Homo sapiens: one gene and its partners. The protein of the gene in region 2 interacts with the protein of the main gene of each other region in a biochemical or structural test. Each region holds a gene or a part of one and is shown on either strand. Other genes may lie near its edges. The genes, in order: GALNT7, GOLPH3L, GLT8D1 and MAN1B1.

Evidence for each region.
Region 1: the proteins of GOLPH3L (region 2) and GALNT7 form a complex in vitro, tested with the Homo sapiens proteins (one study listed by BioGRID).
Region 3: the proteins of GOLPH3L (region 2) and GLT8D1 form a complex in vitro, tested with the Homo sapiens proteins (one study listed by BioGRID).
Region 4: the proteins of GOLPH3L (region 2) and MAN1B1 form a complex in vitro, tested with the Homo sapiens proteins (one study listed by BioGRID).

Annotation. Positions count from the first base shown.
Region 1 is NC_000004.12:173,164,251-173,171,825, forward strand, and holds the start of GALNT7 (N-acetylgalactosaminyltransferase 7), read left to right. Parts: upstream 1-4,560; 5' UTR 4,561-4,585; coding exon 4,586-4,711; exon of another isoform or gene 4,712-5,402; intron 5,403-7,575. UniProt on the Homo sapiens protein: Glycopeptide transferase involved in O-linked oligosaccharide biosynthesis, which catalyzes the transfer of an N-acetyl-D-galactosamine residue to an already glycosylated peptide.
Region 2 is NC_000001.11:150,694,138-150,701,186, forward strand, and holds the start of GOLPH3L (Golgi phosphoprotein 3-like), read right to left. Parts: upstream 3,018-7,049; 5' UTR 2,855-3,017; exon of another isoform or gene 1,623-2,854; coding exon of another isoform or gene 1,593-1,622; intron 714-1,592; coding exon of another isoform or gene 702-713; coding exon 519-701; intron 1-518. Other genes in the region: HORMAD1 (HORMA domain-containing protein 1), read right to left, coding at 4,517-4,597, 5,975-6,046. UniProt on the Homo sapiens protein: Phosphatidylinositol-4-phosphate-binding protein that may antagonize the action of GOLPH3 which is required for the process of vesicle budding at the Golgi and anterograde transport to the plasma membrane.
Region 3 is NC_000003.12:52,702,775-52,709,662, forward strand, and holds the start of GLT8D1 (glycosyltransferase 8 domain-containing protein 1), read right to left. Parts: upstream 3,018-6,888; 5' UTR 2,673-3,017; intron 2,179-2,672; exon of another isoform or gene 1,950-2,178; intron 1,155-1,949; exon of another isoform or gene 1,025-1,154; intron 925-1,024; exon of another isoform or gene 730-924; intron 1-729. Other genes in the region: SPCS1 (signal peptidase complex subunit 1), read left to right, coding at 3,473-3,508, 3,870-3,929, 4,019-4,105, 4,913-5,038.
Region 4 is NC_000009.12:137,083,064-137,089,998, reverse strand, and holds the start of MAN1B1 (endoplasmic reticulum mannosyl-oligosaccharide 1,2-alpha-mannosidase), read right to left. Parts: upstream 3,015-6,935; 5' UTR 3,000-3,014; coding exon 2,781-2,999; intron 1,925-2,780; coding exon 1,816-1,924; intron 1,732-1,815; exon of another isoform or gene 1,601-1,731; intron 1,131-1,600; coding exon 994-1,130; intron 1-993. UniProt on the Homo sapiens protein: Involved in glycoprotein quality control targeting of misfolded glycoproteins for degradation.

The DNA of each region.
Region 1 (7,575 bases), on a different chromosome or scaffold from region 2:
AGCATTCCATCAAGAAATACTCACTGAGCCCTTTCCACATACCAGACACGGATAACAATAACGAACTAGATAGACAAGGCTCCACCTTCATACACATTTTTATCTGGGTATAGGAAAAAGAAATTAAGCAATTACAATATAGTGGTAATCATTAGGGAAGAAAAGTAGAGGGTGCAGTGGAAGTACCTAGCAGGATACCTACCCTAGTACATTGGTGGGAAGAGATATAGGGGTGTGGAGTGGGACATGTGAGAGAGTCTAGAAAAAGCTTTTTTGTAACTGACATCTAAGCGTAATGTTAAGATGTCAGAAGGTATTTCAGGCAAAAAGAACTCCCCGTACAAAGGCCTGAAGGTAAGTGAGTTACATTTAGAAACTTAGAAGTTCAGCTTGGCTGCAGCATAGCATTGGGGTAGTGTAGCCCCAAAATGGATACAATTCCCTCTGCTGGGCTTCCCTGTAACAGAGTTGACATGGTGGAGAAATTAAAAAATAACAAAGCTTTAGGCTCTGACCTCTTGCACATTATGCTGCCTGAAAACATTTATGTTCCAGATGCAGAAGGCTAATCAGTCTGGCAAGAATTCTGAGGTTGGAAAAACCTGCTTTGAATCCCAGCTTGAGACCAGTAATACCCACAACAGGTTGTGTAGAGGTTAGGTGAAATAATAAATGTGAAGCATCTTACACACACTAGGTGCTCAAATAATTCTCTCCCTTCAGTTACCTTGCTTCTGAGCCCCCAGCTGGACTCTGAGCTGAGGACACCATGTCACCATCCACCACACATGACCCCATGACTTGGCAGAGGACGATGCTTTTCTTGGCCATCTCTATGTCCATCTCATTCAGTTCTAGTCTCTACCCTCTTCTTTAGAGGAACTGCAGCATTCATAAAACAAGAATTATAGCCACACGCACCTGAGACTTGTTCCATTACACTAATTGTACTTTATATTTGTATATGTACTTGATCTCAATTATTCCTTTTGAGAACATCATAAGGTTGAGTATTGTAATCACTATTTGGCAGATAAAAGCCCTAGGTTCAGAGAGGTACGTGATTTATCTTGACTGAAGCTTTGAATGTAGCTCCTCATTTTCTAAACGAGTTCTGTCAACCCTACAAAGGCTGCCTCCCAGCAAATACTGCAATGGGCATATGTTTTAAGGTATATTTGCACTTTTTTTAAACTTTTAAGTTCAGGGGTACATGTGCAGGTTTGGTACATAGGTAAACTTGTGTTATGGGGGTTTGTACAGATTATTTCATCACCCAGGTATTAAGCCTAGTACCCACATTAGTTATTTTTCCTGATCCTCTCCCTCCTCCCACCCTCCACCCTCCAATAGGCCCCAGTGTGTGTTGTTCCCCTCTATGTGTCCATGTGTTCTCATCATTTAGCTCCCACTTATAAGTGAGAACATGCAATATTTCGTTTTCTGTTCCTGTGTTAGTTTACTTGCAGTTTCTTTTAAAAGTTATTAAGACTCAGAGAAACATAAACTTTTACAACTATATACCTATTCATCAATATACAACTGTATAACTATATACTCTTTCACACATATTTTAAGTTCTCTGTGTAAAACTAAAGTTGGGGGGTGGTAGTGGTGGCAGGATGTTCTCAGAATACTAGGGCCTTCAAAGGACCATCCTCAATACTTTGATGATAGGTATCACTTTCCATTTGCATACTTGCCCAGCTATGCTCATAACAGTAAAAATAAAGCTTCCTACCTTCTTAAGAATAAAAAACTGTCTCCCCTGTGAAAATAACACAAGTGAAAGACTTAATTATTCAGGTGGACTTCAGCTGCTGATTTCAAATGGAATTATTCTCTTATGATCACAGGATGCCTTGTAAGTTACCTGTTTCAAGCCCAGTCTCTGCCTAGGGAACTGTCTCCTATGAAAAGGAGTCCGGGTGGACCATGGTGGCTCATGCCTGTAATACCAGCATCTTGGGAGGCCAAAAAGGGAGGATCGCTGGAGGCCAGGAGTTTGAGACCAGCCTTGACAACAGGACCAGATAATAGACCCCGTCTCTACAAAAAATAAAAAAAAAATTAGCTGGGCATGATGACTCACACATGTGGTCCTAGCTACTCGGGAGGTTGAGGTGGGAAGATCACTTGAGCCCAGGAGTTCCAGGCTGCAGTGAGCTATGGATGTGCCACTGCACTCCAGCCTGGGTGACAGAGCAAGACCTCAACTCAAAAAAAAAATAAATAAAAAAGAAAAGGAGTCCACCTCACTTCTGAACAGTTCAAGTTGAGTCCATAAATGAGCCTATTTCTGTCTTCCAAAGATATCCATATAAGACTTTTCCCAACCACCCCCCGCAACCTTGCTTCCTTTCAGTGTTTCTCCAAAGGTGGTGCCCAGATTACCTGGATCAAAATCACCAGGGTACTGATTAACAGGAGATTCCTGGGTCCCAACGCTGACCTGAATCATCACCAAGAAATGGTGCATTCGCTTTTCATATCACATTACCCAGCAGATTCATACTTCGTGAATTACACACTCTAGATCTCTGTCACACAAAAAAAATGGTCTTAGGCAAAATCTCTCATCTTCTACTTAAAACAACTGGTTTTAACCTAAGGGGCTGATATAAATGCTAAGTCAAGCAGTGATTTGTGTTTAACACTTGACAGTCCCTCTTCCAGGTACTCTATATAGTGGACTTTTATACAATATGATGTACAGTCCTTCAGCCAACCAATAATACACCTAACTACAATCCATTCTACATTTCCGGAACCATGCTGTTCATGAGGATATCACTTCAGATATTTTGTGGAAATTTTGAAATTATGGCATCTACAGAACTCCCTGATATACTAGCTATTGTAAGCCAAGCCAAAAAGCACATGAAGGTAGTTTGGTATAATTCTTTATCTATCTTGATAATTGAAATTGTTTCACTGTAAAACTTTACATAACTGAGCTTTGTTTTAAAGCAAAAAACTTGCAGATGTGAGACAGTACGAGAAAAAAGAATCAGCTGTTACCATCTTAAAACTTAGGATAGCCTAGGTGTGGTGGCTCACAGCTGTAATCCTAGCACTTTGGGAGTACGAGGCAGATTGCCTGAGCTCAGGAGTTCGAGACCAGCCTGGGCAACACCGTGAAACCTCGTCTCTACTAAAATACAAAAAAAAAAAAAATTAGCTGGGCGTGGCGGTGTGCACTTGTAGTCCCAGCTACGGGGGAGGCTGAGGCAGGAGAATTGCTTGAACCCGAGAGGTGGAGGTTGAGGTGAGCCAAGATCGCACCACTGCACTCTACTCCAGCCTGGGTGACAGAGTGAGAGACTCCGTCTCAAAAAAAAAAAAAAAAAAAAAAAAAAAAAAAAAAAAAAAAGAAAAGAAAAAAAACCCCAAAAAACTTAGGATAAAATCTTAAAACGTTTTGTTCGACTTAAATTTAAATTAGCAGTTTAGGATATAGTACACTGATAATGTAATTACATACATTCTGCTATAAAGGCATAGACATCTTTATTGGGAGATATGGGCAGAAAAATTATTTCCTCAGGGTGGGGCATTTGGCTAAACACTTGCCAATATCCTTTACTGTGTAATTTAGGTAACACAGGCAGAAAAGGCGTTTGAAAAGCAGAAATCAAGTGGCAAATATCAGATCTGAGGGACGCAATGAGGGTGGAGTTGAAATCCGTGGTCCTTGGATTTGAAACTTACCAGCCCGTGAACAAGGTTGGTATTGCTTTTGGCATAAGACGACAGCCTTTCTTTTCATTAGCTCAGGAGGAATACTGGCTTTCCAAGTGAGCTCCTCCAATCCAGTGATATTTGCACATCTCACCTGGGCCTTTCGGTTACAAATTCACCACCTTAAGGAGCCGTGTGAAAAAGCAAGAACAATCAATAAGAAGGAAAAAAAAAAACCCTTCAGCTATAAATCAGCCACGTGGAGCTGCTGCAGCAGCAGCGGTAGTCCCACTTCCTGGTTGGCTTCCTGAAAGCCTCTCGACAAGGGGCTCAGGGAAGTGGGTCTAAGGGAGAGGTGCAGACGAGAGCGACTCCAGGTCCAACGGAGGGGGCGGCGGGCCACGGGATCCCGGAGGGCACAGGCGTTAAGGACGGAGTTATTGTCCATAATTACAATAAAAGTTTGGGGATCTGAAAGCTTTAAGGAGCTGAGCTGCAGGGCAAAGGCTAAGAACCGGACTCGGGAAAAGTGCAAGTTAGTTACAAGGTAGCAGGGACTGTGAAGGGGGCTCGCGTGGAGAGCAGGGGACTGCGGATCTGGAAGGGGGCAGGTAGAGAGGAAGGCAGCCTGGCAGAGCGAGGCACACGGGTCAGTCGGAGCTCTGCGGTGGCCGCCAGAGGGGAGGGGGCCACGGGGAGGAGCGGAGGGAAGAGCCCGGGGAAAGGTGTAGCCGAGGGGAGTTCCGGATCTGGAGCTGGAAAGGGCAGGCAGCGGAGAGGGCGGCAGCCGTAGCGGTAGGGGTGGGGGAAAGAGGGGGAGGAGAGCCGGAGGAGGGGGAAGGAGGGAGGGGAGAGCGGTGGCGGCGGCTGCGCCGGGCTGTGAGTCTCTCGCCGCCGGAGGAAGATGAGGCTGAAGATTGGGTTCATCTTACGCAGTTTGCTGGTGGTGGGAAGCTTCCTGGGGCTAGTGGTCCTCTGGTCTTCCCTGACCCCGCGGCCGGACGACCCAAGCCCGCTGAGCAGGATGAGGGTGAGTGACCCGCCCGGCCCCCTCCGGCGGCAGCGACCGGCAACTTGTTTTGTTTGCCCGCGTGTGGAGGGAGCAGGGGCGGCGGGGTCGCGGCACGGCGTGGGCACCGCAGCTCCGCAGGTGGTGCTGGCGCAGCGCGGGCCGAGGGGGTGCCGAGCCCCGCGCACTCCGACCTCCCTGGCCGCCGCCGGCCCGCCCCCTCGCCGCCCCTTCCTCCGCTCTTCCCCGCCCCGGGCTCCGTCGCCGACACCCGCGCTGCCGCGGCAGCGGCTCGGGCGGCCGCTCTCCGCGCCGGGACTGCGGGCGGAGCGGGCGGAGAGCCGGGTCCGGGGGGCTGCGGCCGCCCGGCGTCCCGCTCTGGGGGGCCGGGACCGCAGCGCTCACGGCCCGGGGACGCGGGGTTGGTCCAGGCTGCGGCCTGTGGCGCGTGCAGGCCTGAAGGAGGCGAGATGCCGATGCCGCCACCGCTGGTCCGGTGGACCAGGCCCCTTGGTCCAGCCTCCCCTCCCGCAGCCGCCCGTCTGGGGGTGTTCGCAGCCCCGGGCTCCCCCGGCCCGCCCGCCGGGGAGTGGGAGGGCGATGGCGCCCCGCCTCCGGCTCTTACGGAGAGCGCGCCTCCCCCTCAACTCCGGCGGCGGGGAGCCGGGGTGCGATGCGCGGCCGAGGCCTCGCCCGGACCGCCGGTCCCCCTCGCGTCCCTGGGCGAGGGAGGGGCGGTTGGCCGGAGATGGCGGAGGGGCGTCCCCGCCCCGCCTGCCCGCCGCCCCCAGCCCTCAGCGCCTGGGGAAGCCCCTGCTGTGGCAGTGCTCGGGCGCTATCCGGGGGAAGAGGAGCAGTTCCTCTTCCTTGGCTGCGGCAGGGCTGCTTGGGCCGGAAAACTAACTTGTGTCGGCGCCCGGCCGCCCCGCGCCGGCTGCCGGCTAGCTCAGGCCGACGCCGAGGGGAGCGGCGGCGCGGAGCTCGCGGCGGCTCCGCTGGGACGCATTTGTCTGCCGCCCAGGGCGCGAGTGTTAGCGCTGACATTCCTTGGATTTGGAGGGTTTAGTCAGGCGCCTCGGAACATTAGTTACCCGGAGCCGCGCCGCGCGGGGAAGGGACCGCGGGCACTGCGGCTTCCCTGACCCGGCAGCGGGCGGCGCGCACCGGCCTCGCCCCCGACCCTGACCTGCTTCCCCCCGGATGAACCGTTGCACCACCTGCTTCCTCCTCCCCGCTGGGACAGCCAACTGGGCCGGCTGCCAGTGGGGGTAGGAGAGGGTATGAGGGGCTCACGACCGCCGAGGCGGCGGGGCTGCAGGAGGAGTCGAGTCGCTCTCTCTGTTGTAAAGTGCTTTTTGCAAGTGTGATGAGCATCGCTTCTATGTCATGTTTATTTAACTTTCCTTCTGGAAAGTTAGCATCAAGAAGTTGGGCAAAAAGGCTTGTGGCGTCCTTTCAAGAGTAAGAATCCTAGGAGGAGATCCCATTATCAGCTCTTCGCCTATATCATGAGATTAGATGTAATCTGGAAGTTTTAGTATTTGAAGTCTCTACAGCAGTGGAATCCCTTTGTAATATCTGGGATAGATTCCCATCTAAGTCATCTAAATTGATGGTAATAAAAAGTATCAGTTTTCCTTTTCAGTACATTTGCGGTTTTAAGCTTCTCAGCTCATGGAGTGATGGTGATCTTTTTATAATTTTGCTCTCAATATGACTTATTGACAAAGGATAACTGAATATTGCAATTGAGGATATTTGTTTTAAGTCATCAAATGGCTTTTTACATGTAGCTAGAAATGTTTAACCCCCTATTTTCTGGTAGAGAAACTGACGAAAAACTGACAAAACTAGCTAGGTTCAGAATGTCCCGCCCTTCTGATGATCTTTTAAAGAGGTGGCGGAACATCAGCATCACTTGCCAACTCGTGGAATATTTTATTAGTGCAAACAAAGGATGGGCCATAATGCCCATTTCAGTACTATATGGTGATGATAAAGAAGGTGATGATATCTTGATTTTTTGTTTGTTTCAGTGTACTTGATAAAGTTTCTCAGTGGATCCAGTGTAATTTCTGTCATTTGTCAAAAACAAAAGGTAGATTTTAAAGACTTAACATAATTAACATTAAGAGGAATGCTTAGGTATCAGAAGAGCAAGAAAGACCCTTTTATTGGCTTCCCAGGTAAATAGTAATACAAGCAATTTAAAGTGTAGCTTATAAATAATAAGAGCATAAATAAGGGATTATTGCCTTCCTTTAATAAAGACTAACCTAGGAGCTTTTAAGGTACAGTGCTAGAAGGACAAATCCTGTAGGGAGGATTCTGACTCCTGAGTTTCTCCTCCCCCTTGTGGTTCTTTTACTTCGATGACTATTGCATATATTCCACCCATGGTGAGATCTCTGCTTCTCTTTAATGCTGATCTACACATGGACTTTTTTGGATCCCTTTAAATAGCCTGAACGATCCAGTTTACCAGGTATGGGTTCTGCCTCTACTCCAGCAAGCTTGTACCTGTGGCTCCATTCACCCTGTGCCACTTTTTGTCTTGAACTATGAATATGTCATACACTAAATTCTGTTACAGCCTTGACAACTTGGGATGGTCCTTTCTCATCTGCACTATTTCCTTGTTTTAGGTCTGTCCACCTGTGGAGTCAAGACAAAAGAAACATGTTTCTTATTTCCTTCCCATCTCTGGGCCTCTTGCCCTTTCTCTGAAGTGAATGATGTGAAAAATGACCTTACATTTCCGATCATATTCTGTTGTGTGATTTTAAATATTGATTTATTTGAACATTTTTGAGTGCCAATTATATACCAGGCATGGTACTAGTTGTTAAGGAAATACTCCTTGTCCTTAATCTCATGGATCTTGT
Region 2 (7,049 bases):
CGTGAGCCACCGCGTAATCCAACTGTTGATATTTGCCTTATAAAGATGCACAGAGGAAAATAAAAAATTATTTCTGCTATAAGAAACCTACCAATTGTTTATTTCTGTAAGGCAACTAATCACACATGTTCCTTGTCTTTTCATGTAAAAGACTATTTCTCCTCAAAGCTGAAGAAGACTTCAGTGTGTGGGCCCTTGTTCTTACTTTAATAAACGGTATTATTTCGCCTTTAATCTAACTTGGGAAACTACAAGTACAAAACTTTATACTATATCCTCCTCTCCTGTATCTTCTAAAATTTTGGAGTAATTTTGTAATTAAATACACTTCACGTAATTCTACTTCTGGATTTTTACCCTCCAAGTATCGGTCACTGTCCCAACTCCTCCATCTTCCAGATGGTTAGAGCACAATTCTAAGACCAATTTATTATTAAATATATTCCATTAGGTTACTTCCTAAAACATTCCAATATTTAATAGTCTTTGAGATAGCCTAGCAAACCTAACTGCATTACCTCTTTATCTTTTAGTCCCAGAAGCAATACTTCTTCCATAAGAGTAAGGCGGATATCCTTAGAGTCTCCAGAATCTTCATTGTCTGGACTTTTCTCCCAATTACTGTCTTCCTCACTTTCCATCTTCTTTTCAGAGTTCTTGCTTATTTCAGTGCGACGGGCCCGGTGAGTTAAAGTGGTCATTCTCACCTGTTTCTGGAGGGAGTGGTGAAAAAAAAAATCCATATGTATGCTTATGTAAATAAATCATATATTCATACATGCATACTAAACATCCATACAAATAGGAAATATTTACAGATTTAAATATAGAAAGAAAGGAAGGAGTAATGACCAGAAAAAAATGGGTGGGTAATACAGTATCTTTTCCAAAGTACAATAGCTTGGACTTCACAGATGGCACTGACAAAAGATCAAATGAGTAATTCTAAAGTCCAGTAGAAATGCTCATCTTTCAAGCCTGTTGACTTCTTTTTTTCTTTTTCTTCTTCTTTTCTTGAGAGGGAGTCTTGCTCTGTTGCCCAGGCTGGGAGTGCAGTGGTGCGATGTTGGCTCACTGCAACCTCCGCTTCCCAGGTTCAAGTGATTCTTGTGCCTCAGCCTCCTGAGTAGTTGGGATTACAGGTGTGCGCCACCATGTCTGGCTAATTTTTGTATTTTTAGTAGAGATGGGGTTTCACCATGTTGGCCAGGCTGGTCTTGAACTCCTGACCTCAAGTGATCTGCCTGCCTGGGCCTCCCAAAGTGCTAGGATTACAGGCATGAGCCACCAGGCCCGGCCAAACCTGCTGATTTTTTCTGCATAATCTATAAAGAAGGAGTGAATATCCACCATTGTCACTCCTCTTTCACAAAATGGATCCCAAGTTAAGTAAGATGGAACAACAAAAAATTGTGAGCATCCAGCCCCAAAATGCATATAATAATTTGTATCTAATTTCTATAAACGTTCCATGGTACTACATTATAAAAAAACACAAAAAATAGAAAGTAAAAAAGAATACGAAAAACTAAATAGAAATACATGTTCTATATTTCCTTCCCATACCCTAATGACTCATTTCATGTACTCACTTTGGAGATCACAAGTCTAGACGATAACATTCAGAAAATCATGTGTAGTAATTCCACAGTCAGTAAACTTAGCAGCTCTAGTCCTAGCTAGCCATATCTTGCAAATACACAAGGAGCTGCAAACAAAAATTACTGGCAAGAGAGTGTTGAAAGATTAACAAATTTTCTCAATTTAAAAAAAAAAGTCAAAGAACATGTCTTTTATTCTATGTACTACGGTCAAAAGAAACTGCACTAAATCATTTGTGATAAAGTTTATAGTTAGCATACTTTATTTTATATAAATCTAGATATCAGTTTTTAAGATAATATATAACAAATATTTTAAATCAGCAATTATATAAAGGAGTATCTTTTTCAAGATCAAAATAATGGTATTTAAGAGTTGCTATGACTGGACTCGTTTCTACTCCTCTAGCAATATTTCCCATTGCTCCTAATAAGTAGTGTTGCCAGACTTTTTCTCAAAAATGTCTCATGCTTTCTTTCTGCTTCTGCTCCTCTGTACTTGCTGGGGTCTTCACCCTTTTCTCTTCCTCTTTACATTCTACCCATTCTTTAAAGGCCTTGTGAAGGCCTTTAAGTGACCTCCTCTTTTCTATTACCTATGTGTCTCATGGCCACTCCCTCAGCTGTTTCACAGAGCTTTATTTATACTCACTTCCTTTAAAGTATTTATTATAGTCTTTCTCTTGGTATAGCTGTCTCTCAACTGTAAACTTCTTAAGAACAGGGATATTGTCTTCTTGGGTTTATATATTCTCCATAGCAACTAGCACTGTCTTTAACATTGTTATTGCTCGATAAATTTATATTGATTAAAATGAATACTCAGAAGTGCATGTGAACATTTAAAATAGAAATACAAATGAAGTGAGCTACAAAAGTTTTTTTGTACAAGGGTATATTTCAAATATAATTTGTTATGGGAGGTGGGAAGAAAAGTGAAGGAGGAAGAGAACCATGAAATAAATTCTTAAGCGCACTAAGCCTATCTGGCACTGTGAATAGGGACTATTTCCTAAACCAATCCAAGAAACTTTAAACCTTCGCGGGGCAGGGGGGGAGGGGGAGAGGGGGCGGTTTCTTTGAGAAATTAGTTTCATCTGCACATTTACTAGTTAAAAATCCTACTTGAAAGAAAACAAATGGCCCAAATGAATACAAACCTTTCCCTCCCATAAAATAATAATTTTAAAAAATAGAGGTTTTTTTTGGTGGGGGGAAGGGACGTTAGGAAATGTAATTTTCTCGTTGCTTACCTGATGTTACTCCTGGGTTATGGCTGGACGCAGGCTGTAGCTTGTGCTGTATTTTAGAAGGACACCTGTTCTCCCCACCCCACCCCCGTCCTAGTAGGTGAAAAACTTAGCCACGCAGAGAGCACAAACTTCCTGATCCTTCGATGCAGAGAAGGAATAACACATCAGCTTCCTCAGGATCACTAGGCAACCTACCTTGGTGTTTCTTCATTGCGCCAATCAGAAATCACCAAGGTTGAGTCCCGCCAATCGGAGCTCACAGGGGGAGGCTCTCCCCCAGCTATTCTGTTGCGATCCAGACAAACACCACCAAAAGGAGGCAGGTTTGCGTTCAACCTGACAGCTGGTCAATCCAATGAAGGAACCTTGGTGGAAGAGAGGAAAGAGGGCTGCGCTCCCCACCCCCATTAAACCAGCCAATCAAAGCGCTGAGTGAGCTAACATGGGCTGCCAATCTCGAAAGGTTTCTGTGGGTTAATTTCAGCGTAGCAGGTGTGTTGCTGTAGTAGCGTATACTGGGACAATTAAGTGAGATGTGTTGGGATCCAAGCAATACAGCTAAAAATAAATAAATATTTTTACATTGGTTGTTTCTGACAGTCAGTTTATCCTTGACTTGACTGTTCCAGAAAAACATGATCTGGGTCAGTTTGTGTACGTTTATATGGTTTACCTTAAACAGGATGAATACATTTCTACCATCGCATATGTACCAGCATTCCCTATAGCGCTTATTACTGACAAACCCATGGATGTGTATGTTTTTGGAATATGGCTGCTGAAACTACAAGCGGCAAACAGACCAAGTTTTAAGTCTTCCTTTTTCTAAAGCAAAGAAAGCAGGCAAGGCTGGAACTAGCTCCCAGGTTTCTCATTAAAAGCACAGCATTTTTCATACTACCACTCAAAAATTCTAGAAAGTGTGCTCAACTCTTCTTGCAAAGTAATAGCTACCGAAATCATCTAAAAATTAGTATTCCCTATCCCCCCATCCTCCTACCAGCCTTTCAAATGAATGAAGCCATATTTCCTGCTACTTAAATAAAAATTAGAAGCGATAAAAGGGCCTACGTACTGAACAATATTTTATTTATGCTGCAAAAAATGCCATACTTTAAAAATCAGTCTTTTTGTCCTGTAAAAAAAAGCATAGTAAAGGTAAAGCACCAATTCTTAAATTGTACATTATATATTAAAATGTTAATACATTATGTCAAAATATTGAAGAACATTGTTTTAATAACAGCACAATGACAAAAGAGCCAGTTAAATGGTATAATTTTAACATAAGTAAAAAGTGAATCCATACCAAATTTTAATACCAAAGTAAACATTACTGTTTAGAAAAATGGCATTAGAGGGCCTTAACAGTTAGTATATATTTAAAGGAAATATTAAGTAGGTAATGAACAAAATCAATTTTGAAATTTTACTTATTACCGAATCAATTATGACATTTGTACTTTTGCTTTTATTCAAAAGTTCTATTGGATTTATCTCAAGATTAAGGACCACAATATGACAGTCAGCCAAAAACTTAGTTTTAGTGTACAAACTGCTTTAAACTACATATACATCTTCAGAGTTAGGGAAATATAATATAGGGTCCTTCAGTTTAAATGGTGAGAAGAACTCTGCAAGCCTGCAGAACAAAAATAATTTTTATATATGTTCCTTTGGTTCACTAAACTTTCTCCTTTTTGGCACTGACTCTTGACTAGAAGAATCAAAGTGATGGAGGACCTGTCAAAAGAAAACAACTACTAAGAATAGATACTTTCCTGTTTAAATGTCTTTAATTGTAGATTTTTTCATGTATCTGAGATTTCTCTTCTTTTTAAAAAAATTTATGCCTAGCATACCTAGCATAACTATATCTGGGTTTCTTAAAAGTAGAGTAAAATTTATTATTAACATCTTCCAATGGCTGCTGAAAGTATGTACTTGCAAAATGTATAATCTTCAGTAGGGCTGCTCTAGAAGTGAGAAGATAGATTTAACATTATGTCCTCAAAATAGCCAAATATTTCAGAGCAATAAGAAGGGAAAAAAGATTTTAAAATGAACTACAAATAGAAAAACATTCTACCTTGGAATCATGTACGATTTAAATCATGTCTTGCTTTTGTACTCTTGAGACGTTAACATTTGAGTTTTAAAAATAGTCTTAGGTTTTCAGTTGTTTAATTCTAACCTACTAATAATACTAAAATATCTAGTTGGAAAAATATGAATAATTATCTCAGAAATGGCAAATACATTATCTGATTTGGTAAAATAAGGTTCTAAATATGAAACAACTATAGGGTTTAAGTCAGGAAAATATTTTTTTCTCCAGAGGTACTAGGAGGAGACCCTATATTTTTAGGGAACACATGTATTTAGTAAATTATCCTCCTTCTACTTCAGTTTTGATCTCTAGAAAGCTCAGATCAAATTTGTGGCCCAATTTCAGTTCTATATAAACAAAATGGCCTTAGTATTCTTGTACTGTCACTTTCTCATTCTATATTCTCTTATATTTTTCCTGGCACTGATTTTTTTTTTTTTTAAAGACGGAGTCTTGGTCTGTCGCCAGGCTGTAGTACAGTGGCGCGATCTTGGCTCACTGCAACCTCCACCTCCCAGGTTCAAGCGATTCTCCTGCCTCACCCTCCCGAGTAGCTGGGACTACAGGCGTGCGCCACCACGCCCAGCTATTTTTTTTTTTTTTTGTATTTTTGGTAGAGACAGGGTTTCACCATGTTGGCCAGGAGGGTCTCGATCTCTTGACCTCGTGATCCACCTGCCTCAGTCTCCCAAAGTGCTGGGATTACAGGCATGAGCCACTGCACCCAGCTGATTTTTAATTTATATATTATAAATTCCTCCAATTACTTTAAATCATTCATGGAATGAGACAGGAGATGTTTACATGGAAAAAACTAATAAACCAACATAGGGCATCTTATTTCAAAATCACCTCGATTTTTAGAACAAAATATATTTAAACAAAATTTGAATATCAGAACTCTCAGGTACATCGAAAGATATCAAATTCATCATTTTAAATTTAATCTGTAGTAATGATATTCTGATCCTTCCCATTGTATTCAAACTATACATTATCATAAGACTTACTATTCTCCCAGATTCATGTTGACTTCTCTTCCGATTTTCTTTGGAAGATTTTACTGGTTGATTTCCATTTGCCTCCACAAAGATAGAATAATTACTAATTGGTTATTTCTCAAAGAACAGCCAACACTTGATTTTTCAATCTTATGCAACGATATGCAATATTTATTTATTTATTTACTTTTTAGGGACAGGGTCTCCCTCTGTCACCCAGGCTGGAATGCAGTGGCACCATCATGGCTCACTGCAGCCTGAAACTTCTGGCCTCAAGGGATCCTCCTGCCTCAGCCTGCCAAAGTGCTGGGATTACAGGAATGAGCTACAGTGCCCAGCTGGATATACAATTTTTTTAAAAAACAGCTTTATTGAGATATAATTTAGATACTATATGATTCACCCATTTATAAGTGTACAATTCAATGATTTTCAGTACCTTCACAGAGTTGTACAACCATCACTACAATCAATTTTACATCACTTTCATCACCCCACAAACAAACCCCATATACCTTAGCTATCACTCTCTTATTCTGCCATCCTCCCACCAGCCTTAAGACTGTCTCAATAACTTTCCCAGTTCTGACTTTCAAATGAAAGGAATAATACAATATGTGGACTTTTGTGAGTAACTTCCTTTAATTAGCATGTTTTCAAGGTTCATCTAAGTTGTAGCATGTATTGGCACTTCATTTTTTTTATGGCTGATATTCAATTGTATGAATATACCACATTTTTTAATCCATTCATCTGTTGATGTATATTTAGGTTTTTCCCATCTTTCGGCTATTGTGAATAATGCTGTATATATAGTTATTAAAATGAATATTGGAAAATGACTAATGATTAGGTGTCATACAACTATTCTCTAAAAGGATATACTTCTTTTCTGATGCTTGAAATGAGCTTTCCAATGATAACTTCCTTAGTATATATAATAATGAATATTTTCATTTCTTGCCCTTTTCTAACCACAATTCAGTAATAATTCTCAAAATCAGGAGTACACTTGCTCAGAGTTCATATCCAAAAACATGTGCAATTTCAGAAATAAATTTATGTCCCTAAATCATCTTAATGT
Region 3 (6,888 bases), on a different chromosome or scaffold from region 2:
TCTTTCTTTCTTTCCTTTTTTTTTTTTTTCGAGACAGAGTCTGGCTCTGTCAGCCAGGCTGCAGTGCAGTGGTGCCGTCTTGGCTCACTGCAACCTCTGCCTCTCAGATTCAAGCAATTCTTGTGCCTCAACCTCCCGAGTAGCAGGGACTACAGGTGTGCGCCACCACGCCCAGCTAATTTTAATAGAGAGAGGGTTTCACCATGTTGGCCAGGCTGGTCTCGAACTCCTGACCTCAGGTGATCCACCTGCCTCGGCCTTCCAAAGTGCTGGGATTACAGGCCTGAGCCACCAGGCCCAGCCCACACACACCTTTCCAAAGCAGTATATATGAAGTACAACGTGTCAGTGAACTTCTTCTCATATACATCAGGGCGCCGTGGCTCACGTCTGTAATCCCAGCACTTTGGGAGGCCAAGGCAGGTGGATCAAGAGGTCAGGAGTTCGAGACCAGCCTGTCCAAGATGGTGAAACCCCATCTCTACTAAAAATACAAAAAATTAGCCAGGCATGGTGGCAGGTGCCTGTAATCCCAGCTATTTGAGAGGCTGAGGCAAGAGAATCCCTTGAACCCGGGAGGCGGAGGTTGCAGTGAGCTGAGACCGTGCCACTGCACTCCAGCCTGGGCAACAGAGTAAGACTCTGTCTCAAAAAAAAAAAAAAAAAAAGAGAAGTATATACATCAGTATATACCCTAAGTCATATGCCTCTATCACATTATGGGCTGACCTTATCTACAGAAGCTGGCAGAGGGGAGCTGTTCGGACAAAGCCCCAACATCTGCCTGCGATGAGGCAACTTCCACCACCACTGAGAAAACGATCTTGCACTCAAATAAATCCCACTTAATTAATGGTACAAGAGATAATGTTTTTAGTTTCTTGACTTCCAGTTAGCAGTTACGGGATCAAGAGGCACACTTGGCTGGAAACAAGAAAAACACAATTCTATCAAGTATCTGACATACTTAAGTAGACTGGCAAGGCAGAAACCAGTTGCTCCTAAAACTTCCACAGTTACCTACATGCAAAACGCCAGTTATCATGGAGTACGTCTAATCCATATTGTCTTTCCTGGGGCTATTCCTGGTAAGAGAGCTTTCCTGATCTGGTTAGAAGGAATTCTCAAAACGAAATTGCACACAGACGCTGGATCTGTAATAGTTAACTACATTTTCGTAAGAGTATATAATTGTGTACAATTTGATTAGCAACACAGTTGGTCCTCAGTATCAGTCGGGGATTGGCTCCAGGACTCCCCATGTATACAAAAATTCACGGATGCTCAAGTCCCTTATGTAAAATGGCATATTACAGTCAGCCCTCTGTATCTGTAATTTCAGTCCGTGGTTGGTTGAATCCAAGGATACAAAACTGTGGATACAAAAAAAAAAGACCGCACTGGCCGGGCGCGGTGGCTCATGCCTGTAATCCCAGCACTTTGGAAGGCCGAGGTGGGTGGATCACTTGAGGTCAGGCGTTTGAGACTAGTCTGGCCAACACAGTGAAACCCCGTCTCCACTAAAATCACAAAAATTAGCCGGGCGTGGTGGCGCATGCCTGTAATCCCAGCTACTCAGAAGGCTGAGGCAGGACAATCCCTTGAACCCAGGAGGCGGAGGTTGCAGTGAGCCGCGATCGCACCACTGCACTCCAGCCTGGGCAACAGAGCGAGTCTTCGCCTCAAAAAAAAAAAAAAAAAAAAAAAAAGACCACACAGAGATATATCTATTTATACACACAACAGAAAGTCTCTTCAAACACACCAAGAAATACAGAGCATGAGAAGGAAACAGGAATAAACTCTTGCCCATCCCTCTTTCTGCCTTCTACACGTCCTGAGTCCTTCTGAGGTCAGAAAAGTGTCAAACGTGTCTGCATTTTACTGTTTGGTCTCTGCCACGTGCAAGGATGAAAGGGCACTGAGGATATACAAACACTTTCTCCTACCCTTTCATCTGGCTGGCTCCCACTTGGCATTCAAAGGTCAAGGTAGCCTCCTCCAAACTCCACGTTGAGCTGCACCTCCCCTGAGCTCCCACATCTGGGCCTCCCTCTCCCAGGGCTAATCCAGCTGTCATGTATTTCTGGCGTGATGTGGCTGTCTCCCTTGACACGCTCTGGGCTCTTCCAAGGCAACAGCCTGGTCTTGGTAACAACCGTGTCCTCGGTCTGCTGTCTGGCACAAACAAGGTGCCGTGAATATTTGCTGGTTGCATGAATGAGGACAGCAGTCCCACCCTGTCCCGGGAGTGCCTAGAATTCCACTGTTTGTGGCCAACCCAGAATACATAACCTGGGGGCCGGAGAGCCAGCTGGGACCCAGAGGCCCGGGTTCCTCAGAACGGTTTCTCTCCAAAACGTGGGCATCCCACCTGGCTGACGGTAACGGAGGAGGGTCTAAGATTTAGAGATACACCAGCCTTGAAAGAGAGGCTGAGTGAACCTTTGGCTGGCCTCTATCGGGAGGGCCCAGCCTGGGTCTGTGAGGGTCAGTAAAGCCGGCCACAATGTGAGAGGGCTGAGTTCGGGAGCCCCCAGATGAGGGACTTTCTACGCGGATGAGAGGGACAGCCGAGCACCAGGGTCCCCTCTCCAAGGGAATTCTCTCTGTTGTGGATGCCGCCTAGGGTAGCCCCCCTAAATTCCAAGGGTCAGTAGGGCCCCCCTTACACTTTGAAGTGATCGGAAAGTGATGTGACGCTCCGGGGATCCCACCAGGCTCAGAGATACCCCTGGTTAGGGCTCCGACAAGTCGTTCCCCTCAAAGGCTCGCCGCGGCCGCCCTTACTGCAGGCGATGGAGGAGATGCGGATGCAGCCCGCGCCCCGACCCGCCCTGCCAGCTCAGCGCCCGCGCCGCAGGCCCCGGAGCCCAGCCCGTTGTCTGGCCGCCCGCGTTCCCTGCACGCTGGGCCGAGCACACTTGCCCTCTAGCTCCGTGGCAGCCGCGCAGCCCCACTACGCCCAGCCAGCCCGCAGCGGTAACCGCTAGAGCGTCGCGCCAAGCAGGCGCCGCGGGGCAGCCCTGCCGCCGGGGTCCTCGCAGGGAAAAAGGCCGTCGCCATGGAGACGCGGGGGCGCCGGCGGCCGTTGGGCCGCGCAAGTACTGTCAAGGACAGTTTTCGGGACGGGGGACGCGGCTCCAGGCACCCAACAGCACTGACGGCGAACACTTCACGGGCGCGCGATGCCTCGACAAGGCGGCCGCCACCACCACCTCAGCTGCCCTCGCGGGCAGCACGGCGCGGCAAAAGCGCACGTCGCCTAGCGATGGCGCGGGGCGGGGACACGGGCTGTACCGGCCCGTCGGAGACTTCCGCTTCCGGGGCCGCCGCCATCGCTCTCCCGGGCTTAGAAGGCCCGGCTACTGACGCGCAGTGCCAGACCTTACCCCTCACGGTCCTTAAGTCTCGGTCGCCCTCGCCTCGCAGCCTGCCACCCGCGCTCAGCTGCCCGCCTCCTCAGCCAGCCATGCTGGAGCATCTGAGCTCGCTGCCCACGCAGATGGTGAGGGCGCAACCCGGGGACCTCTGCACGCCGTTCTTGTGCCTGGCAGCTTCGAAGCCCATGTTGGAGCACCGACCCGGTGCTGCGCTGTTCCGGGCCCGGATGGTTACCGTCCACCCTCTTTCCCGAATTGCCTCCTGGGTCCCCTTCTCTTCTACTCCGCGAGAATCTCCTGTCCATTCTCCGTGAGGGTGTTTCAGTTCCTCCCGGGAAGCCCAGAATTTAATATCTTGCCCAGGCCCTTAGGAGAGCGGGAGACCCTGATGTTGGGGTTACCCTGTGCCAGAGTTGTGAGGTCAGGGCAGGAATTGTATGTTCTCGGCGGTGGAACCAATTCTTTTTTTCCTCTGCTTCACCCCAGGATTACAAGGGCCAGAAGCTAGCTGAACAGATGTTTCAGGGAATTATTCTTTTTTCTGCAGTAAGTATTGGTTTTACATTTAATCTCCGCCCCCGCCTCCCTCCCAACCCTCAGTTTGAGTGTGTTTAATATACTTCATTTGTCTCTAGATAGTTGGATTTATCTACGGGTACGTGGCTGAACAGTTCGGGTGGACTGTCTATATAGTTATGGCCGGATTTGCTTTTTCATGTTTGGTAAGAAATTTGTGGGTATTAGTGGCAGCTTGGGTTTTGTGAGTCGGGTTGGTTTGGTTAGACCTACTCAGTAGTGAGACCCAAAGCCAACGTTTCCCTCATCCTTCCAAACAGCGTTTCCCTTTGCTATCATTGGAAAAGTAGAATGCCAAAATAGTGTCAGATGGTGCGAACTATATAAAAGGACACAGCTTATTTCCTTTGGCGGCTACTCTGGCTAATAATCTTAAGGTCAAAGCCAGCAGGAGTTTTCATGGTGCTCACGTTGTCCCTTCACCTTTTATTTATTTATTTATTTAAATTTTTTGAGACGGAGTTTCACTCTTGTTGCCCAGGCTGCAGTGCACTGGGGCGATTTCGGCTCACTGCACCTTCTGCCTCCCGGGTTTAATAGATTTTCCTGCCTCAGCCTCCCGAGTAGCTGTGACTACAGGAGCCCACCACCACACCCAGCTAATTTTTGTATTTTTAGTAAAGACAGGGCTTCACTGTGTTGGCCAGGCTGGTCTCAAGCAATCCGCCCACCTTGGCCTCCCAGAGTGCTTGGATTACAGGCGAGAGCCACCACGCCTGGCCCCCACCTTTCTTTTAGGTCTTAAAGCCATTTGTATAGGCAGTGAGCCTGTTCCCATCATCATACAGTATTTTGCATGGATGGTGGCACAGAGCCTTTATAGGAATATGGATTTTTTTTTTTGTTTTTTTGTTCCCTCAGCATAGGAGTCATTTGGGAACCTGGCATTATACGTAATGATTTTTTAAACTTTTAATAGCTATAATTTATGCATTTCCTCTTTTCTGGCCCAGCTGACACTTCCTCCATGGCCCATCTATCGCCGGCATCCTCTCAAGTGGTTACCTGTTCAAGAATCAAGCACAGACGACAAGAAACCAGGGGAAAGAAAAATTAAGAGGCATGCTAAAAATAATTGAGGTTTTCATGATTCAGCACCTGCTTTTGTTTCTGTGAGATGAGCTAAATTGCTTTCATACCCCAGATAAGAGCTAAAACCACCTAATGCTCTTATGGCACAGCTGTGTATAGATTTAGTTCTCTTTATACTTCATTTCTAGCCCAGTTGGGTTTTGATTTATATAAGTAGTTTAGACCTTCTCTTCATAATCTTGCTCTGAGATGGGGAACAGAACACACAAGTATGAAGTTTCTTTCAGGTGTAAATAATGAAAAATAAATGCCTCATAAATGATAGTACAATGTAACTATCAAAGTTTTATAATTCATTATGAGTTAACCATTTTAATGTTTCCAATTAAACCTCATAGTGCAAGTTCTTTGTCTAAAGGGTCTTCTGTTGATTATTCTGCAAGGAAGATAATTAATAAAAGCCTAAGTTAGAAGTTCGTGCTTCTGGCCAGGTGCAGTGGCTCTCACCTATAATCCCAGCACTTGAGGAGGCTAAGGCAGGAGGATGACTTGAGCCCAGGAGTTTGAGACATTTCATGGTATGTAATTAATAGTTGTCATTAGAACATTAGTTCCATGAGAACGGGGACTTTGTTTTGCTCACTGCTGTCTACCCAGTACATAGAAGAGTACACGATGCATTGTTAAGTACTTAAGATTTATTGAATGAGAACTGCATTGTACAATATGGTGCCACTAGACACGTCTATTTAATTAAAATTAAAATATAAAACTCTAAAACTAGCCATGATTCAAAGGTTCAATAGCTATATGTGACTAGTGGCTACCATATAAAACATTTCCATCACAAAGTTCCATTTATCAGATCTTATATAGAACCTTGAATAAAATTTAATAGACAAGTGATTTTGTATTTAACATTTCACCTTTATTGAATGCCTATAAGGCCATTTGAATAACGGATCATGTACAAAGCAACAGGAAAAAAAAAACTGCAAGCAGTAAAGGTTGTGCAGGTGATATTCAGTAACACTGCAGTGTAGCCAGAGCAAGGACATAAAACTTCCTTAGCTTTGTAAGTCTGTGGAAATCAAAACTTCTAAAAGAGAAAACCGAAATCAGAATTACTGACACTTTAGGCCAGGCATGGTGCCTCAAGCCTGTAATCCCAGCATTTAGGGAGGCCAAGGCAGGCAGATCACCTGAGGTCAGGAGTTCAAGACCAGCCTGGCCAACATGGTGAAACTCCATCTCTACTAAAAATAACGAAAATCAGCCAGGCATGGTGGTGTGTGCCTGTAATCCCAGCTACTCGGGAGGCTGAGGGAGGGGAACTTGAACCCAGGAGGCGTAGGCTGCAGTGAGCCAAGATCGCACCACTGTACTCCAGCCTGGGCAACAAGAAGACTCCATCTCAAAAAAAAAAAAAAAAGAATGATTGACATTTTAGAACCAATGCCAAAAGAGTAACACATCAAAGTCTCTGAACTGTGGCCAAAGGTATATTCGGAAGAAAATTCACAGTCTTAAAGATGAGTTTTTAAATTAATTTAGGAAGATGAATTAAGCACTCAAGTAAAAACGATAAAAGTGGGAAGAAAAGATGTTTAAACAAAATAAAAATATACAGTATGGTAATTAATAAGAAAGTATGGGGGAAGTCAGGTGTGGTGGTTCATGCCTATAATCCCAGCACTTTCAGAGGCCGATGCAGGAGGACTGCTTGAATGCAGTTTGAGACCAGCCTGGGCAACACAGACTTCCTCTCCACAAAAAATTTTAAAAATTAGCCAGGTGTGGTGGTGCATGCCTGTGGTCCTAGCTACTTGAGGGGCTGAGGTGGGAGGATCACTTAAGCCCAGGAGGTCAAGGCTGCAGTGAGCTATGATCACCTCAC
Region 4 (6,935 bases), on a different chromosome or scaffold from region 2:
TCCAGAGGACACAAACCACCTATACCTAGGGACTCCTAAAACCTGTCTCCCCTGGCAGACTCTGATCCTGGCACCACCTGCCCACCAAGGTCTCCATGGCGCCTCCCAGACATCTCACAGTGGGCAGATCCAAAACGGAGCTCCTCAGTGTCCCCAAGCCAGAGCCTGCACAGCCTTTGCTGGCCCCTCCACCCGGGGACTCACCCTCCTTCTCCCAAGGCCCACTCCTGCGGAGCACTCCTCCCCCCACTCAGCTTTTCCCACGGCCAGGCAGCTCTCCTGGCCTCCTGCCCTCCACTGTGTCTCCACCCAGCCAGAGCAGTTTCACAGTAAACATCTCAGACCTCCAGTCCACGCCAAAATCTTCCCGCATACATCAACTGGACCCTCCATGCTGCCTCCAGGACCTGCAGGACCACAGCTGGACTGAGCCAACCCCTGCTCCCTCTCCCAGCCCTGGGAATTTCACCTTCCCGCATATGCCAAGGTCCTCCTTGCCTCAGGCAGTTTCACTCAGGCTCAAGTCTGCCTCTCCCCACCTTGCCCGGTGCCAGCAGCTTCTCAGCCCTCAGATCTTGCCCTCAGTGCCACGGCCTCCCCTGAACCCTCAGGACCAGCCACTGTTCTTCACCAGCGCCCTGCTCTTTTCCACATAGGATGTACACCATGTGCCATCTGCCTCTGCCCATCTGTGCCTGGCTTCTCACCAGCCTCTCCTACCAGCTGTGGCCTCTTGAGAGGAAACAGGTCTGTCTTATTCAACACTGCACAGTCAGAAGTAAAACCGGAACTGGCCATGGCTGGTCTTCAAAAAGAATGAAGCAAAGACTACGCCTCTCTTTCCCCAAGTATTATCCGACCAGTCCAAAACGAGAGAGAGGTAAACACGTGGTAATAAATGGTAAAGGAAAATAATTCTTCTCAATCTTCAGTGGTTTGAAATGCCTCTGGATTGAACCCCAGTTATAACCCCACACCATTTGCTCAAAGTACCTGTGACGAAATCTCAGGTAAGTTCTCAGGGTCGGTGTCCGCCTTCTGAGGAGCTGGTAAGACGGGTGGATTTGCTGGTTTTAACCCAGCAATTTCTGGCCTCATCTTCTGCTCTTCCTCTAGCCTGAAAGCCAGAGCTGAATAACAGAAGCTATTTTATTTCAAATATGCCACAAGGCCTACAAGAGATTTAAACTGCTTTATAAAAACACTTGGCAGGCACTATCCATTACAAATCAACATTATGATACCTGATAGTCACTGAAATGAATTCAACAATGTCCCAAGGGAATGAAATCTTTTTCAAAACACTTGGCAGTTTGTGTCCTTGTCCATAACACAGAACCCCACATCTTTTGCCTTCCTATTTTCCATTCAGGGACGTTCAGCATGTGGCAGGTGGGCAGGAGCCCTTTAGCTTTGCTCCAAAGAGAAGCATCTTAGACCAAGTGAGAAGAGATTCTCCACATCCTCACCAGAACTCTGCCTGGTCTTTTCCAAACACACGCTAATGAGTGCTACGAAATTTGTGTGGTTATTTAGGCTGAGTGTTCAAGCCCACCAGCTGACTTACTCTATAAGGGAGGCTGGACATATCAGTACTTACACCAGAGACCTAGAAAGTAGTCAGACAGCATCAAATTAACATCTGTGTTCTAGCCAGGTGGTTACATACAGCTCTACCTTTCTCTTTATCTTGATTTCTTGCCAATTCGTTGCCATATATGCCTCCTGGAGCTGTTTAAGGTAGAATGCAAGATTGCTTCTGCCCAATCAACCCTCAACACAGATATCGTTTTCAAGTACACGTGTTTCTGATACCTTTCCAATGGTCAGCCAAGTTGATGTAGAAGAGGAGTCCACAGAAAAGCAGAAAGGCAAGGAGGAAGAGAATCATATTCCGCTGCAATCTCGACAGTTGCTTCCATTTCTAAGGGAGGTACAGAGAATGACATTTCTTACTGAATATATCACACGGAACGTCTCAACTGTCACAAACTGTGAGGACAATAAGGAATTCTTCTGGAAGATCCAGTGTTCAGCTCTATTTCTTTTTTTTTTTGGAAACAGGGTCTCATTCTGTTACACCTAGGCTGGAGTGTAGTGGGTGGAACGCGGGATGAGCCACCGTGCCCGGCCAGCTCTATTTATTTTGAATGGGGAGAAGTTCCCTCTCAGCAGGGAGTAGGAACATTGCTGGGACAATACTACAGATGTCGTTAATACAGTGGTGCAGATGAGACGAGGATAAGAAAAAAGCAGAAACATTTCTGTCACATTTCATCAACAGTGGAGAAAGACTCCTGCGACTCCCACAGATGTAGCCCAGGCACCGCCCAGGCGATGCACAGTCCGCATGTGGTTATCAATGCCCTTCGGCCTGAGACCACCACGAACAGACCAGGAGCCAATCAAGAGGGGCTCATTTCTCACTGTACCGAGGGGAGCATACACCACGGGGAACCTCCGGTTTCCGCTCCAAGAGGGGCAGGCGCCTGGGCCAGGACCTTGCAGAAAAGCGAACGAAGCCCAGAAAACCTGCTGGGGCTCTGAGCCCTCTTCCCACCACCGCCCCGCAGAATTTGGGCCGCTGAGACCGCTGCAGGCGAGCCGCCCACGGCTGCCCCAACCAGGAACGCACATTTGCCCCTTTTTGCGGGGAAGGGGTGGAGAGGGCGGCGCCTGGGGAGTCGAGTCCGCCCGCCCAGGTCCCGCTCGGAGCCGCAGTCTGGGAGGGCGGCGGGCACGGCAGCCCCGGGCCCCAGTCAGCCCGGCGCGACCCTCACCCTCCAGCACGAGCGCCGCCGCCAACTCTTGCTGTTGTCATAGTTCTCGCCAAAGCTCAGCGTCACCGAGATGAAGTCCCGATGAGGCGGCGGCGGCGGCGGTGGGTACATGACTACAGTGGTGGCGACGGCCCAAGGGGCCCCGCCCACTGGCGGCGTCAGGAAGTCCGACTGAGAGGAACCGAGAGCTCCGCTTCTCCTGCCCTCGCAGGCAGCCATCGCAGCGCCGTCAACAGCCCGCCCATCACACGGATACGCGACTGCGCGTGCGCTGCGTCTCTATGCGGCCAGTGCGCCCGCGCCTGTCTCCGCTGCGCTCCAGCGTACGGGGCTGCGTCCTACGGCGACTGCGTCAGACAACTGCTGCGACTCCGCCCTGCCCTCAGGTTCATTGCGCATGCGTCCGGCAGCGCCTGCCCAGGTGTGCTACGAGCGTAGCTGTAGCAACGGGGCGGGCCTTGGTTCGCCTGGGGCGTGGTCGCTGTCTGGGGCTCCCACGTGGTTCGCCTCATGGGCCTGGAGCTGGGCTTCTCTCGCCTCCTGTCGTCTGGCTGCACCGACTTTGCCCACGCCCTCACGGGAGACGCAGACACTAGGGACCCGGGGAGGCGCCCGGGCGGGGCCGCCATGTTGGCAGAGAGTCCCAGCGTCCCGCGCCTCGGTTCCGGAACCCGCGGCGCGGGGATGGAGCTGGGCTGCCCTTGGGCGCCGTCCTGGGCTGGTGCCCACCCTGGCCGCGTGGTCACCGGCAAGAAGCCCAGGGCCTCACCCAGGCGTGGGGGCCGGGGGAAGGACCGGACCCTCCCGAAGTCGCGGACCAGGCCGGGCGGCACCCGGGCTGGGGTGGCTGCTACCCCGAGCTAAGCTGGCTGCGCCGCATCTCACGGTCCCCGGGGCCCGAGCGCTGCGCCTGGACCGGCGCCGAGCGAGGCGGCCAATCGGCCGGCTGGACCCACAGTCCCCGCGCCATAGGCGGGTCGGGGCTTTCAGACCCGGCTCCCAGCCCTCGAACTCGGTAACCTTGGAGGTCAGCTTGAGATGACTGCGCTTCCTGCACGCGTTGTCCTCCCCAGAAACGCCCAAAATGGCAAAGCGGCGTCCGTGGCCGCCCGAGGCCCTCCCTGCCTGGGTTCTCCCCAGCCGAACCTCACGCCCGGCCCCTCCTTCATTCTCTCCTGGCCAGGCTGCTCCTGCCCTTGGGCGAATCCGCTGCGTCCCACGGTCCTGACTGTGGCATTTCTGCGTGTCTGGAGAGCTCCCCCGGCAGCGACGTCCTGCTTAGCACGTGGCTCGTCTAACTCTGTTCCCCTGGCCTCCTGCTCTTCTAGGGGTCATCTTTAGGTTTCTGCTGGTCTCTGCCCCCTGTGACACTTGCTGGTACCCAAATGAAGTCGTTTATGTCACACTCTAACAAGAGGCCCTGAAGAAGCCCTCACAAAAACATTAGCAACGGAGCGCCTGCGGCAAACCCTTCTAACCTTTGGTCTTTATGGTTTCAAAGCAGTTTATGGGAACTTCTCTTTTTTAAAAGATTCCCCTTGGGGCCAGGCGCGGTGGCTTCTGTAATCCCAGGACTTTGGGAGGCCGAGGCAGGTGGATCACTTGAGGTCAGGAGTTCAAGACTAGCCTGGCCAACATGGTGAGACACCCGTCTCTACAAAAAACACAAAAAAATTAGCAGGGCATGGTTGGTGGCAGGCACCTGTAGTCCCAGCTACACGGGAGGCTTAGGCAGGAGAATTCCTTGAACCCAGGAGGTGGAGGTTGCAGTGAGCCGAGATGGCACCACTGCACTCCAGCCTGGGCAACAGAGCAAGACTCTGTCTCAAAAAAAAAAAAAAAAAAAAAAAAGAAATTTCCCGTGGGCGGGGCACAGTGACTCATGCCTGTAGTAATCCCAGCACTTTTGGAGGCCAAGGTGGGCAGATCCCCTGAGCTCAGGAGTCCAACCTGGGCAACATGGTGAAACCCCTGTCTCTACAAAAAATAAAAAAATGAGTCCAGTGTGGTGGTGTGCACCTGTGGTCCCAGCTACTCTGGAGGCTGAGGTGGGAAGACCACCTAAGCCCCAGGAGGTCGAGGCTGCAGTGAGCCATGATTGCACCACTGCACTCCAGCCTGGGCAACAGAGTGAGATCCAGTCTCAAAAAAAAAAAATTCCCCCTTTCCTCAATCCCCACCCCACCCCCCCACCACATGCCTGTGACCCACTGAGGCTTGCATACTCTGCATTGCAATTATGTGTTATTCTTGATTAAATTCATTTATTCTGGAGAGCCTGAGTTTCTCTTTAGGTTGACACCACTCACTCTTGTCAGTCCCTGGAGTACCCCAAGCATCCTCACGTGGTTAGCAGGGAAACCTTGGCATCTCAAGGATGCAGGTGCAGGAGAGCGAGTCTCCAGGCTGTCAGAGCTGAGCATGCAGAAGCCTGCCCTGGAGAGCGCCCCGAGGTTCCTGACCGCAGGTTGTCTCAGGCCCTCCTGAGACCCTGGTGAAGAGTGGGATGGGACCGCGGGGGGATTCCTTGGCACCCCAAGTAGTCTTGGCCTTCATGTGTGAACTCCTGTCCCTAAGGGGGCCCCCAGTGAGCTCCAGCCCTGGGACACAGCTGTGAACACCTGATCCTTGTTCCCAACACCCGTGCACTGCCCAAAAACTGCACTTGCCAGAGTAGCAGTCAATTACGGCACCTTGTGTTTATTGGAAATATTCCACCTACAGAACATTAAGATGCCAGCAACCGGCCCGGCGCGGTGGCTCACACCTATAATCCCAGCACTTTGGGAGGCCGAGGTGGGTGGATCACGAGGTCAGGAGATCGAGACCATCCTGGCTAACACGGTCAAACCCCATCTCTACTAAAAATACAAAGAATTAGCCAGGCGTGGTAGTGGGTGCCTGTAGTCCCAGCTACTAGGGAGGCTGAGGCTGGCCTGGAGGTTGCAGTGAGCCAAGGTCACGCCACTTCACTCCAGCCTGGGCAACAAGAGTGAAACTCCGTCTAAAACAAACAAAAAAAAAGACTTCACCCAACTAACTGTGCTTGTGTAGAAAGAGGTTGCATCCCTGTTCCAGTCATGGCCATGAGGAACAGCTATGAGAAGGGCCCTAAGGCACAGCATGGTTTGCAGTAAGAAGGGCAGAGCCAGGGAGAGAGAAGTAAACATCATCTTCTGGGCTTTGGTTTCAAAAATCACAAGGTGTGGGCCTGAGCCTGCTGCCTGCCCAGGTCTGGGCGCCTCCACTCAGCCACTGTCCTCCCAGTGCCTCTAAATCTGGAAGGCTGCATCTGAACCTGCCCTTCCAGACAACACCCCTCCCCTGGGAAACCAATGGGGATGAGTAGTGGCCCTCCACTGGGGACTGTGGGTTTCGAGGTGGGGGCAGAGGATGAGTTGGCAGCAGTGGCATATCATAGCTCTCTTCATGTCAGCAGGGAGAGGGAGGTGCCACTGCCTCCCCTGAGATGAGAAAGCAGGCGAGAATCACCAGGGGAAGAACCCTGGGGCAGCTGGCTTGTCCCAGCCATGCCTGAGTGCACCAAATATGGAGGCTGCGTCCTCACTCGGAGAGCCAGGCAGCCTGAGCACCAAGATCCGTCAGAAGCAGCAGGCAGCTGGGGTGAGGGGTGGTGCCTCTGACTCATGAAATCCCGGATTAGTCAGCAACCATCACAGAGGCCGCCGGCATTGATCCCACTGGTTCTTGGGGAAGCACAGAAAACTCAGCAGCCTAAACCGACCATGGAAGAGGCTGAGAGGCAGAGGCCTTGGGGATAGATGGGGAGAAGGCAGGAGTACCGGCCGCAGGCTCAGGTGTCCAGGCCAAGCTTCTCAGAGCCACCTGGATCATGGACATCAGGCTCTTTCTGTGGCCTTGCTGGGCATCCAGGGTGTGTGGGCTGGGATGCCCCAGCCTTGCCCCCATTACTGGTTCGTCTGCTAAGGAAGAGGGGGCAGCCCTCGAGTGGGTGGAATTGTCCCCCTCATTCTGGTTCTGCATCTGTAGGCTGCAGAAGCACATCCTGTGTAGCTTATGCAGCTTCTAGTGCTCGGTGGGGTGTGGTGGATCCACAAGGCGGGCTCCCAAAGGGACATGCCCTCCTGTTCTCCCCAGATGACACCACACCTCCCTTGGGCCCCAACCCGAAGC